Regions from separate parts of the Homo sapiens genome. Here all the other regions are linked to region 1. Evidence: fine-mapped expression QTL. A gene starts in region 1. Each other region holds a variant in brackets. All regions are shown on one strand. Distances are between the middles of the regions. Region 1 holds the start of FAM43A (family with sequence similarity 43 member A). Region 2 has its middle 91 kb from the start of LINC01972. Region 3 overlaps XXYLT1 (xyloside xylosyltransferase 1).

Evidence for each region. PIP is the estimated chance that this variant, and not a neighbour inherited with it, causes the effect. A credible set is the group of variants that fine-mapping cannot tell apart.
Region 2: its variant is the best candidate, but not a certain one, in a credible set for the expression of FAM43A in whole blood (INTERVAL, PIP 0.73).
Region 3: its variant is the best candidate, but not a certain one, in a credible set for the expression of FAM43A in whole blood (INTERVAL, PIP 0.54).

What each region holds. Positions count from the first base shown.
Region 1 is chr3:194,684,235-194,688,473 of GRCh38, forward strand. FAM43A (family with sequence similarity 43 member A) reads left to right here and starts at 1,649. Exons shown (of 1, transcript NM_153690.5): 1 at 1,649-4,239. The coding sequence starts at 2,593. The coding sequence ends at 3,864. It overlaps LOC124909474, which reads right to left and starts at 2,675. Exons shown (of 3, transcript XM_047449428.1): 1 at 1,626-2,675; 2 at 1,104-1,184. The coding sequence starts at 2,019. RefSeq lists enhancers at 1,379-1,738, 2,490-2,995, 2,996-3,499 and silencers at 2,479-2,668, 3,499-3,798.
Region 2 is chr3:194,857,206-194,861,444 of GRCh38, forward strand. No RefSeq gene overlaps it. Among named protein-coding and RNA genes, the nearest start is that of LINC01972, 91 kb to the left of the region's middle. The variant T/G (reference allele first, on the strand shown) is at 2,167.
Region 3 is chr3:195,110,367-195,114,605 of GRCh38, forward strand. The region is part of intron 3 of XXYLT1 (xyloside xylosyltransferase 1); the gene reads right to left. Among named protein-coding and RNA genes, the nearest start is that of XXYLT1-AS1, 18 kb to the left of the region's middle. The variant G/A (reference allele first, on the strand shown) is at 1,879.

The DNA of each region.
Region 1 (4,239 bases):
CATGAAGCCTTTTCTGATTTTCCTAGTCACAATGAATGCTTTCTTCCTCCAGCTTCTCATAGTGCTTTGAGTCTTTCTCATAGCATTTAGCCCACTCTGTCTTCTTGTCCACATGCATATCTTGCTCATTAATTCTAGTTACTGAGTGCCTATTTGTACCATATTGGGGATACAGGGTACTTGCAGAGAACCCACAGTCCAGTGGAAACCCAGAGTTGGGTAGAGTTTACAACCTTCATTGGACTAGGAGGCAGGAATCCCGTCTGCTCCTAGCTCAGGGCCGGGCACCAAAAGGTAGTCAGAAAAGTAACTTAAATGGAAACTCAGCAAAGTAACTTAAATGGAAACTCAGCATCAACGACTCTGAGAAAATTGAGTTAGATTTCAAAGGAAGGTTAAAAGTTGGCAAAGGTAGAGGGTGGGCAGGGGTCAGTTTTATTTTGTTGGAATATCCCAAGGGAATTTCCAGGTATGGTTGCAGTGACTCTGGCATGAAGACCTGGCGTGGAAGCCAGAGACATCAAAGATCCCCAGGGGACTGGGATGGTGGGAAGGGATCACTGTCCTCCTCCAGGACCAGGCTGGGAGTTTGATGCAGGATCATTCGGACATTGATCCCACTCCAGCCATACGTCTTTTTGCTTTGACTGACCATACCATAGAGGCAAGCAGGCTGTTTCAAGGGCCCAGAAATGAGTTACTGGCTAAGGGTCAAGCCGGTCAGAAGACAACTACACTGTCCAGTTGGCACATGATAAAAGCAATACTGATGCAATTATCACTCCCATTGGAGGGTGGCCTGGCATTATTTGTCACTTAAATAAAAAACGTCATTTGAATTTTTACTAGGAATTCTCATCCAAAATATGTCAATGATAGAATGAAACCGCATGACCGGCTTGCCAAAGTAAACTAAGTCCTAACGACACACGAGCATTAGAAATTGTGTGTATCTCAGAAAACTGCTCTACCCTGAGGCCTGACAGCAGGAGGGGGTCTTGCCGGGGTTCGGACGGGGAAAAGCCTTATTCATTGACGGTATTCTACAGTAGTCACCCCAATCATGTTACCACTCACCTCACTTTACACTGTCTGCTGCTTACCTGTGAATACGAGCTCAAGATAGTGAGAGATAAGCCTTGGTGTTTTCTGTGCCTCTCTCTTTTCTTTAATGGAATACAATTCTGAAAATAATATTAAACAGCACCCAGTCATTCTCAGAAAGCCGTCACACAAGGAAGAAACCACTATTTTCCCAAACTTTTTGTACAGGAAATTATAATCTGTAATCTCATCTTCTGCCACCTCCCTCAGAAGTTTCGATCTAGACATACATGTATTCAGTGAGTGGCAATTCAGCCTGGGGGGTGGAGTGTCAGGATTCAAATCTTTTTGCTGCGGGGTAACCCCAGGTCCCAGTGATTTCCATAGACAAAAGAGATGCTGGTAAATTTGGGATGTAATTGGAGGATTGGACCGGTCTCCCCGCTCCCTCGACCAATGGCTGTCACGCGGTCCCTTTAAGAAACCAGGAATCCGCCCGGAGTCGGAGCCCAAAACAGATCCTCTTCTCTGCTCCTCCCCTGTCCCCGCGCGGCGAATGGTTCGCGCCGGCCTATATTTACCCGAGATCTTCCTCCCGGACGGCAAGGATGTGAGGCAGGCGAGCCGGACGCCGCTCGCAGCACCGGAGAGGGCGCACTGCAAAGGCGGGCAGCAGACCGTGGAGAGCCCGGGAGCGGAGCTGGACACCGCCTCGGAGGGAAGAAATGAGGTAGCGGCGGTTCCCGGACCCGGCCATGCCCGTCCCCTGTTCTCGGAGCCCAGCGCCGTCTCGGCCAGGCCAGCCCGGACACTGAGCGGGCCGAGCGCGAGTCCCCGGCGTCCGGCGGAGCGAAGATGCAGTGAGTCCCCGCGGGACTGCTGCGCGGGGCCCGCCGCGGCCAGCCGGACCCAGCATCCGACCGCACTTTGGGCGAGCTGCTGACTTGAGACCAGCCCAAACGGGGGGCTTTCCATCTCCAGCACCCCTCGGAGGTGGGGAGCACCGGCCCCTAGGCACACTCGCTGTAGAGTTTCCGCGGGTTTTGGCCCCAGTCCTGAGGGTTGTGTGTGTTAGGGGACCCACCTCACGTTCGCCGAGGAGTTCCTGCATATTCTTGCACCATCCCGGGTGCTGTTGCTGGGGCTCTCTTTATTTGCACGCGCGCTTCTAGCTTTTTTCCTGACATTTTCCACTCTACGCTCGTTCTTTCTCCCTTGCATTTTGTTGCTTGCCTGAGACTCTTTGCTCTCGCCCTTGCCCAGGCTGGGGTAATTCTGTGTGCGCGCGTGTCTCCCCCGCACCAACCTTTTTTGCACACTCGAAGCTGAATATTTTCTTTTTTAGAGAATTTACCCGCACCTCCTGCGGGGTTCCTAAGCACTCTCTCTGCTCCCCTCCCCCCAACTCCCTACCACAGGGCCGCTCCCAGTAGTTTTATTCTTCGATCTTGCCCGGGCCGAGCCTGGCAGGGGCCGGTGGCTCAGCGGGCCTCGCACCCGGCGCTCCGCCGCCGCCGCCGCCCAGCTGCGCCGGGGCGCCCTCCGGAGATGCTGCCGTGGAAGAAGCACAAGTTCGAGCTGCTGGCCGAGGCGCCGCCGCGGCAGGCGTCCAAGCCCAAGGGCTACGCTGTGAGCCTGCACTACTCGGCGCTCAGCTCGCTGGCGCGGGCGTGCCCCGAAGGCGCGCTTAGCCGGGTGGGCAGCATGTTCCGCTCCAAGCGCAAGAAGCTGCACATCACTAGCGAGGACCCAACTTACACCGTGCTCTACCTGGGCAATGCCACCACCATCCAGGCGCGCGGCGACGGCTGCACCGACCTTGCTGTGGGCAAGATCTGGAGCAAGAGCGAGGCGGGCCGTCAGGGCACCAAGATGAAGCTGACGGTGAGTGCGCAGGGTATCCGCATGGTGCACGCCGAGGAGCGCGCGCTGCGCCGCCCGGGCCACCTCTACCTGCTGCACCGCGTCACCTACTGCGTGGCCGACGCGCGGCTGCCCAAGGTCTTCGCCTGGGTGTACCGGCACGAGCTGAAGCACAAGGCCGTGATGCTGCGCTGCCACGCCGTGCTGGTGTCCAAGCCCGAAAAGGCGCAGGCCATGGCCCTGCTGCTCTACCAGACGTCGGCCAACGCGCTGGCGGAATTTAAACGCCTCAAGCGGCGGGACGACGCGCGTCACCAGCAGCAGGAGCTGGTGGGCGCACACACCATCCCGCTAGTGCCGCTGCGCAAGCTGCTCCTACACGGACCCTGCTGCTATAAACCGCCGGTGGAGCGCAGCCGCAGCGCGCCCAAGCTTGGCTCCATCACCGAGGACCTGCTCGGCGAACAGCTGGAGCAGGAGCTGCAGGAGGAAGAGGAAGAGGAGCAACCCGAGGGCTGCCCGGAGGAGGAGGAGAACCGTGCGGCAGAGGGAGATCCAGCAGAGGAGGAGGCCGAGGCGCAGCGTGCGCTAGTGGTCGCCATGCACTTTGAGTGCGGGGACTTGTTGGATACTCTGGAGAATGGCCGTGGGGAGGCGCTAGGAGGCGGCGGGGGCTCCCTGGGCCCGGGGGCCGGGCCGCCGCCTCTGCTGCTGGGCAGCGCCTCCGACATGAAGGCTGAGCTGTCGCAACTTATTAGCGACCTGGGCGAGCTCAGCTTCGGCAACGACGTGCGCACCCTGCAGGCCGACTTGCGGGTGACGCGCCTGCTGTCAGGCGACAGCACGGGCAGCGAGAGCTCCATCGAGGGCGGGGGCCCTGACGCCACCTCCGCCACCGCCGGGGACTCGTCCCGCCAGGCCGACGGCGCCAGTGCAGACGAGCCCCACTCGGGCTGAGCTCCTCCGCGCGTCGCCGGCGCTCCACCGTGGCTACCCATCCGTGGTCCCGACAACCTCCCTGTCCCTTGCCCGCCCCCAGGAAGGGGGAAATGGGGCATTTGGGGCCCAGACCTACACTTGGAGCCCAGGTCCAGCGTTCCCCCGACCGCTTTCCCCTACCTCCCGGCCCCCGCTCCCGCCCCAGCACTTTTGGCTCTGTTGCGCGTGGGGATGCGGGGAGATTTGAGAGGGGAAAACCCCGCCAGGAGGGAGAGAGAGGCACCCCTCTGGGATGCGGGTGAGGGAAGGTTGGCTGAAGTTCCTAGTCTCAGGCCGTAGGTGCCTGGCCAGTTTCCTGTTTGTGGGGCAGCTGGGGCCTGAGGAGGAGGGGTT
Region 2 (4,239 bases), 170 kb after region 1:
CCCCGTTCTCCTTGTGGGCCCTTTGCACCGCATGGCTGTTCACAGCCACCAAAAGCCTCATGTGCCTTCTGAGTCCTCTCCCAAGCACCCAACCTAAGTTACCAGAGGACTGGGAAGGAAAGGTAGGAGAATCAACCCCCCTCCCATCTGAGGGAGCCCACTCTAGGCATGTGATGCATTGCAGGATCAATGGCATATTGAAAACATCATAAAGATAACGCGTGTGCATCTTCTCCAGACACCCCTTCTTGCTAATCCGCAGAACACAAGACGGAGTGTGTTGCATTCCTTAGAGATGGAACCATTGCCTCTTCAGTAAGGAGAGACTTTCAGCCCAAGAACTACATTTGGGGAGGCCTGGTAGCTACCCAACTTCACAGACTCTCAGCTCCATAGTGTCGCTGGAGTCTTCCCCAGCCTGTCCTGAATATGCACTCACACATACGCATTCCATTAAACCGCACTTGGTGTTTTACAAATAACAGGACTTCTTGCACTACACAGCTTAATACCCTCACTGCCAAACCTAATTATCGTAGTAACTCAAGCTCACACTAAAAGCGAGAGATGGGTCCACTTTAACCTTATCATGAATTAGTAAGTTTTCCCTCTGGAGATCCCTTCCCTGAAAATGTTCACTGAAGGTATTTAGGCCGAATTAACTATATTTATTTTAAGATCCTGCATGCAGTGAGTGTTCAGGGCTTTTGTTTAGAGTAAATGAGGTCATCGCCTGCCTCATTTCTTCTCTCCCTCTCTCTCCATGTCTGGTGGGGTCCCTGGTCAGGGAAATTGTGTGTCCCACATAAATGCCTCTTGGAAATTAAGTTGGAGCTAAAATAGATGGGGAGAACACTGGGCTTTTTTTTTTTTTTTTTTTTTTTTGTGAGATGGAGTCTCGCTCTGTCGCCAGGCTGGAGTGCAGTGGCACGATCTTGGCTCACTGCAACCTCCGCCTCCCTGGTTCAAGCAATTCTCCTGCCTCAGCCTACCAAGTAGCTGGGACTACAGGTGCATGCCACCACGCCCGGCTAATTTTTTGTATTTTTAGTAGAGACGGGGTTTCACTGTGTTAGCCAGGATGGTCTCAATCTCCTGACCTTGTGATCCACCCTCCTTGGCCTCCCAAAGTGCTGGGATTACAGGTGTGAGCCACTGCACCCAGCCCCACTGGACTTTTTTGAGAACCAGCTCTGCCACTGGCAGAAGCCCTGTGATCCTGATAAGTTACAATCTCTCTGAACCTTATTTTTTTTTCTGCAACATGAGGATTCCTGCCTATCTCATTGAATTGTTGCAGGTATCAAACGAGGAGAAAAAGCAAAAAGCCATGGCAGTGCTTCATAAACTCTGAACTATCATAAATGTAATCTCTTTCTGTTAAATGACCCTGGTTATAAAGCAGATTGCATAAGAAGTCTGCCTAGGTGTCAGGAGCTACCCAGTTTCTACTTGAAACACTGAAAAAAAATCCTTTCACTGAAAAAAAATCCTATCTTTCGGCTTCTCTGGTCCTGTTAGACACAAAGAGTTCTATTAGCAAAATAAGATGAAAGAAAATAACATGACTAATAACCATTAATAACATTATCGATAACCATAATGAAAACATTATTAATACCCATAATGATAATGGTAACAACTCGTATTTATTGAGTGCTTCCTATGAGGCCGGCACTGTCCCAAGCACTTGGTATATGTTTAACTCACTGATTCCCCTATTCTGCTCTGCTGGAGCTGGCCAGCGCAGGTTTAGGAAAGCCGTTCCTAAGGATCCAGGGTTCTTTTGAGCCATTGTCAAACCATTCATAAGTGAAAGTCAACCATGGTGGGAGTATTTACACCAGGGTAATGTGCAGATGCTACAAATCGAGGCTATTTATTTATGGAGCCCATTTACTAGGAATTAGATAGTCTCCTTTTTTTTTTTAACAGTTGGGAAACTGAAGTCGAGAGATTAGATGAAGATAGTAATGATTCCTCCAATGTTGGAATATTCTGTGTGGGTTGCTGATTCTTCTCTTCCTCCTCTTTCTTCTCCTAAACCTACTGTATGAGTCCATTTGTGTTGCTATAAAGGAATACCTGAGGCTAGGTAATTTACAACAGAAAGAGGTTTATTTGGACCATGGTTCTGCAGGCTGTACAAGAAGCATGGCGCCAGCA[T/G]CTGCATCTGGTGAGGCCTCAGGCTGCTTCCACTTATGGGGGAAGGCAAAGGGGTGCAGGCTCCACATGGCAAGAGAGGAGGAAAAAGACAGAGGAGGCAGGTGCCAGGCATTTCCTAACAATCACTTCTTTTGGAAACGAATAGAGCAAGAACCCACACATTACCAGAAGGATGGCACCAAGCCTTTCATGAGGGATCCGCCCCCATCACACCTCCCAGTAGGCCCCATCTTCAACAACGGGGATCAAATTTCAACATGAAATTTGGAGACAAAAATATGCAAACTATATCATCTTCCATTTGCTGTTTATCTTCCTCCATGATTATTTTATTAGTAATAACAATAACAAACCCATTTCTCATATTTCCTATAGTTCAGACATTTGTGCTGGGAGTCTTGAAGCCTTGGACTCCCGGTTTCTAGCCTCAACAGTTACACAGGAAGAAAGACATGTAAACGAGTGGTTCTCAATCCTGGTTGCACATCTGAATCGCCCAAGAAACTTTTTAAAAACGCCAACAGCCCTTGCCCCCTTCCAGACGTTGACCGAGCTGATTTAATTATCACCATTTCTAAGGCCCAGAGAAAGAAGTAACTTGCTCAGAGTCACACAGCAACTTATTGCTGAGTGAGGACTAGCACCCAGAATTTTACATTTTGAGTTCCAATTCTTTTCTACTACTCCCACCAATCAGTCAATCAACTTTTGATGGATTCGTGTCTTGCATACAGCAAGTGCTCCATGTAAAAAGCAAGCTTCAGCCAGGCATGGTGGCTCAAGCCTGTAATCCCAGCACTTTGGGAGGCCAAGGCAGGTAGATTACTTGAACCCAAGAGCTTAAGACCAGCCTGGGAAACATGGCAAAACCCATCTCTACAAAAAACACAAAAATTAGGTGGGCATGGTGGTGTGCACCTGTAGTCCCAGCTACTCAGGAGGCTGAGGTGGGAGGATCACCTGACCCTGGGAAGTTGAGGCTGCAGTGGGCCGAGATTGCACCACTGTACTCCAGCCTGCGTGACAGGAGTGAGACCCTGCCTCAAAAAAATAAATAAATAAATAAAAAGATAATAAAAAGCAAACTTCATGTGTGAATTAATCTTCAAAAGATATTCATTCCTCAGGAAGAAATTCCTTCTCAGCAGGACTCATCCGAACCATGGCAAGGCGACACAAGTGAAAGGCATGGACAGACCACATGATTTGCTCAGTCAATGGAGCTTTCAAAATCACTTGTCAAAAAATCGCCTGAGGAGCACTGGAAAGTTCTGTAAAAAATGAGGCCCGGAGAGGCAAAGACATTCAGCAAGCCAGTGTGCCAGGGAGTGAGTCCCAGCCAAGGACTCCTCCCGCCCCACCGCACTGCCCACCTCCCATACAGCCCTGGGGCCCCACTGTACATCCAGCTGCCTCCTAGGCTGTTTTCCCCTTTTCTCCCTCCCTCCCCTCTTTCATCTGTCAAATATTTAATGACCCTACAGCACAGGTCCTGGAACTTAATTAGTGCTCAGTACATATTTATTTTGGATGAATAAATAAATGAGCGATGCATTCCTCACAATTCTGGGCTCTGGGAGCTACAGAGGTGAGTGAGACACGGCCTCAGCCCTCAAGATGCTCAATGTCTAGGATGCGTTCGGAGGCACTGTGGGCTGGAGGAGGAAGCTCCGGCACTGCAGAGAGTCAAGTCTGCAGCAGGAGCCTGGCTCTGCACGGAAAGTGCCAAAGGGCTTGACGAGTGTGAGCCCAGCTCCCTCTTCACAAAGTGAAGATACTCATGCCTGCATCATGAGGTTGCTGTGGGGTTTAAATGACATTACATGCATAAGCCACCTCGAAAGTTGTACAGCACGTAGTAGAGATGTGATATTATCATTCGTACCTTGGACCAAAACTTGGAGAGCAAAAGAGCTAAGACAGCAGTCTAGAGCAGAAGCTTTGTCCCAAGTGATGGCTTGTCTCAAGGAGAAATCTGTATCATTCCTTGTGACATCCTCTGAGGCCCTTTCTTCCTGCCCCACTGGTCTGCCCCTAGCCCAGATGCATTAGGGCTGAGTCCCATAGGCATAC
Region 3 (4,239 bases), 430 kb after region 1:
GTGTGTGCTGTATAAGTGTGTGTGGTGTGTTATGTGTGTATAAGTGCGTCTGTGGTGTATGTGTGCGTGTGTATGTGGTGTAAAGTGTGTGTGGTGTGTGGGTGAGGTGTGTGTGTATGTGGTGTATGTGTGCATGGTGTGTGGTGTATGTGTGCGTGGTGTACGTGTGCGTGTGTGTGGTGTGTGTGTGGTGTATGTATGTGGTGTGTTGTGTGGTGTATGTGTGTGTGTGCTGTATGTGTGCATGTGTGTGGTGTGTGTGTGGTGTGTGATGTATAAGTGTGTGTGGTGTGTTGTGTGTGGTGTATGTGTGTGTGTGCTGTATGTGTGCATGTGTGTGGTGTGTGTGGTGTGTGTGTGTGTGCTGTATGTGTGCATGTGTGTGGTGTATAAGTGTGTGTGGTGTGTGTGTGGTGTATAAGTGTATGTGGTGTATGTGTGCGTGTGTGTGGTGTATAAGTGTGTGTGTGGTGTGTTGTGTGTGTTGTATAAGTGTGTGTGTGGTGTGTGGTGTATGTGTGCGTGTGTGTGGGTGAGGTGTGTGGTGTGTGTGTGTGGTGTGTGTGAGGTATGTGTATGTGGGTGGGGGCAGGGTGATATTTATTTTCTAGGGCTGCCACGACAAAGTACAAACCGGTTTGCTTAAACAGCAGACACTGATTGTCCGCAGTCCTGGAGGCTAGAAGTCTGAGATCATGGGTCGGCAGGGCTGGATCCCTCTGAGGGCTGCGAGGCCGAGCCTGTTCCAGGCCGCTCCCCTAGCTTCTGGTGGTTCGCTGGCAATCTTTGCTATTCCTTAGCACGCAGAAGCAAAGCCGTGATCTGACTTCTCCTTTACGTGATGTTCTCCCTGTGTGTGTGTGTCTGTGCCCAAATTCCTCTTTTTATAAGAACACCAGTCATACTGGATTAGGCTCGACCATGAGGACCTCATCTTAACAAATGACATCTGCAACGACCCTATTCCAAATAAGGTCACATTCTGAGGGAGTGGTGGTTAGGGCTTCAGCGTATGAATTTCTGAGGAACACATTCAATCCATAGCAGAGAGGGGAGATGGGGAGAGAGGCTGGATGGGGAGCAAGGGGAAAGGAGGTGGCGGAGAGGGTCTGGCTGGGCTGAGTGGGCTGGGCCTGTGTGTATCTCTCTGGCTAGGATGGCGCTCCAGGGGCAGGTGTCTGATGGTGCTCAGTGTCTCTCATGACGGGAGCATCTGTCACTGTGAACGTCTGTAAGCAGCAGGTAAAGGACACGCTGATTGTGACCAAGCTGAACGAGTATTATACTATCACTGGCCCACCCATCTACCACTGGTACTGACTCGTGAAGCCTATCTTTTCTCACAGAATTCCACTGTCTTCAACGTGGTAAGATTAACAGACAGACTTCTAACATAAGCTGTCTTCACAGGGCCTTGAGGCTGGATTACCTCAGTTACAACAAAACAGAATTTTCAAAAATAGGAACTCAACTTAAAGATTTAAAATTGAGGTAAAGTGGCCTTCGGAAAAATATGTAAATACAAGATCATTTGCTCGCCCCAATCGTGGAAGCTTGATTCAAATAGCGCGTGCCTGCTCTACATGCAAAGTGAACATCCTGATTGCCTGTAAATGCCTCAGGAACTCATTTCTTCTACAGTTTACTTGGCATTACTATCGCTGCAGAAATGTGCAAATGAGACGGGTGCTAATATCAATCAGTACATTGGTATATACCAAATCAGCTTAAGTGAGGACAAGATAGTTATAATTATTCTTAAAACCCACGAGACCATTTCTAGCCGTCAGGAGGGCCCATGAACTAGGAAACTGAGGCTTGCTGACATCTCAGCGACACCTGGGCAAAAGCCTACTGGAATCCGGGTCAGGTTCTGTG[G/A]GCTGCCATGGCTGAACACTGGGCAAACACGGGTTTCGCTGATGCTTTGGGGTTCGCAAGCCCCAGAAGATCTGTCCACACTGATCCACTCTGCTCAGTTCTGAGGCAACTCGGGGCAGGGCCATCGAGCCCACCCACCCCAGCAAGGACTGCACGTGCGCACGTGCGCGCACACACACACATGCACACACACGCACGCACACCCACACGCATGTGCACACCCACACACATGCACACACGCATGGACACATGCACACACCCACACACACCCACACACACACACAGAGCCCCCAGCCCCAGGTGGGAACAGCTAGATGAAGCAGTGCACACACACGCACGCACACACACACACGCATGCACACACACGCACACATGTGCACACACACACCCCCATGCACACACGCAGCTCCCAGCCCCGGGTGGTGGGAATAGTTGGATGAAGCAGTGCACACACACACGTATGCACACACGCAGCTCCCAGCCCCGGGTGGTAGGAACAGCTGAAGCAGTGCGCGCATGCACACACACACACCCATGCACACACGCAGCTCCCAGCCCCAGGTGGTGGGAACAGCTGAAGCAGCGCACACACGCACACACACCCACACGCATGCACACACATGCATGCACACATGTGCGCACATACACGCAGCCCCCAGCCTCCAGCCCCAGGTGGTGGGAACAGCTGGATGAAGCAGTCAAGAGAACATGGGTTTCAAAATCCAATCTGGGTTTCAACTGCAGCCATGCCCCTCACTCGCCGTGCCATCCCAGGCAAGCTGTTGCTCTTCTTTGAGCTTCAGCTTCCTCCCAGATAGGAACATTAATCCATACCCAGAGGCTGTGTGAAGATTAAACAGCATTTCATATGAGGAGCCCTCGCACAGAGCCTGGCAAGAGCCACTCCTTGGTCCGTGGACCTTCCCGTCTTTTCTCCCTTCCACAGTAAGGATGGAGCCGCCTCAGGAAAACATCTCCCACTGATTTCGCCGCAACTGCAGGATGGAAACGGAGGTGAACATCTGGCGGGAGCTCGGAAAAACGCCAGTTTCTGACACTATCTTCGACAAGCCAGGGAGTTGGGAAAGCTTGGGAGGGGAGTGGTGCACTAACGTATATTAACACTTACTACGAGGCAGGCACCGTTCCAAGAAGCTGACATGTTTTCAAGAATCTTAATTCTCAGAACATCCCTGATTAGGTAGTACGCTTATCCTTAACATAGGGGGAAACTGAGGCACAAAGCGGTTTACTGGTTTGTCCAAGGTCACAGGGCTATTAAATAGTGGAGCCAGGACCTGAACCCAGGCAGTGTGAACCCAGCACTCACGGTCTTTTTTGTTAGAATCCTTTTTCTCTTTAATCAGTTTTGGATTTCCCCTCTGTTTCATGAGCTTTTTGCTTTACTTTTTAGCCATTCATTCCACAAACACCTACTCGGAGCCAGGCCTGGGAATGCCGAGCTTGGCTGAGGGAGCCTGCACAGCACCCACAGGACCAGGCAAAGAGGCGGAAAGGGGTGTGGCCAGGAGAAAGGGTTGTGGCCAGGAGAAAAGGGTGGAAAGGAGCCCTGGGCATTCTGATAGTGCCAGAGGGTGCTCCTGAGGCCGGCGGGCAAAGAATGCTATGAAGAAGGGGTGTCTGAGTTGGCCATGAATGACAGAGAGGATTTCTCAAGGTAGAGATGGGTGAAGAGAAGTCCCTCCAGGTGGCAGGAACAGTGCAAGCAAAGATAAGCAGGTGAAAGCTTGGCACAGCATCTGGGAGCCATGAGTGCCCAATTTGGCTAGAGCGTACTGAGTCAGTGCCAGGTCACAAACGCCTTGAGTGCCAGACCCCTGGGTTGAAGATTCTGAATGCATTCCAAGATTCAATTAAGGAAGCAGGATGATCTGCCCATGATTTTGCCCACTTATGGTGGCAGCCAATCATCCTGCAACAACTGTGCCCCAGTCCACACGCTTCCAGGGAAAGCTGCATTGGGTGGCCCCCTTCTCGCTCCTCCACGTGAAGCCCTGAACTCAGCTGCCCAAATTTGTTTCTCCACAAAGTACAGCCACACCATTGCACCCAAAATGGAGGATCTGAGGGGCCAAGGAATGACTACTGCCTGGAGAGCCGGGAGACACGGAGCATCACCTTCCACCTGCGTTGAGCTTCTTTTCATTTCACTCCATGTACTAAATAAGCCATTTTGAGCACCTGCTCTGTGTACGGTCCTGTGCCTGGGTCCCATGAGACCCAAATCATTGTCATTTCTCTAGCACTTGAAACACATCTGTCCCCCTACACCCACAATCACATTATACAACCATGTCATCAACAAGTACATTTCTACTAAAAAGTTCCTGCTCATGACAG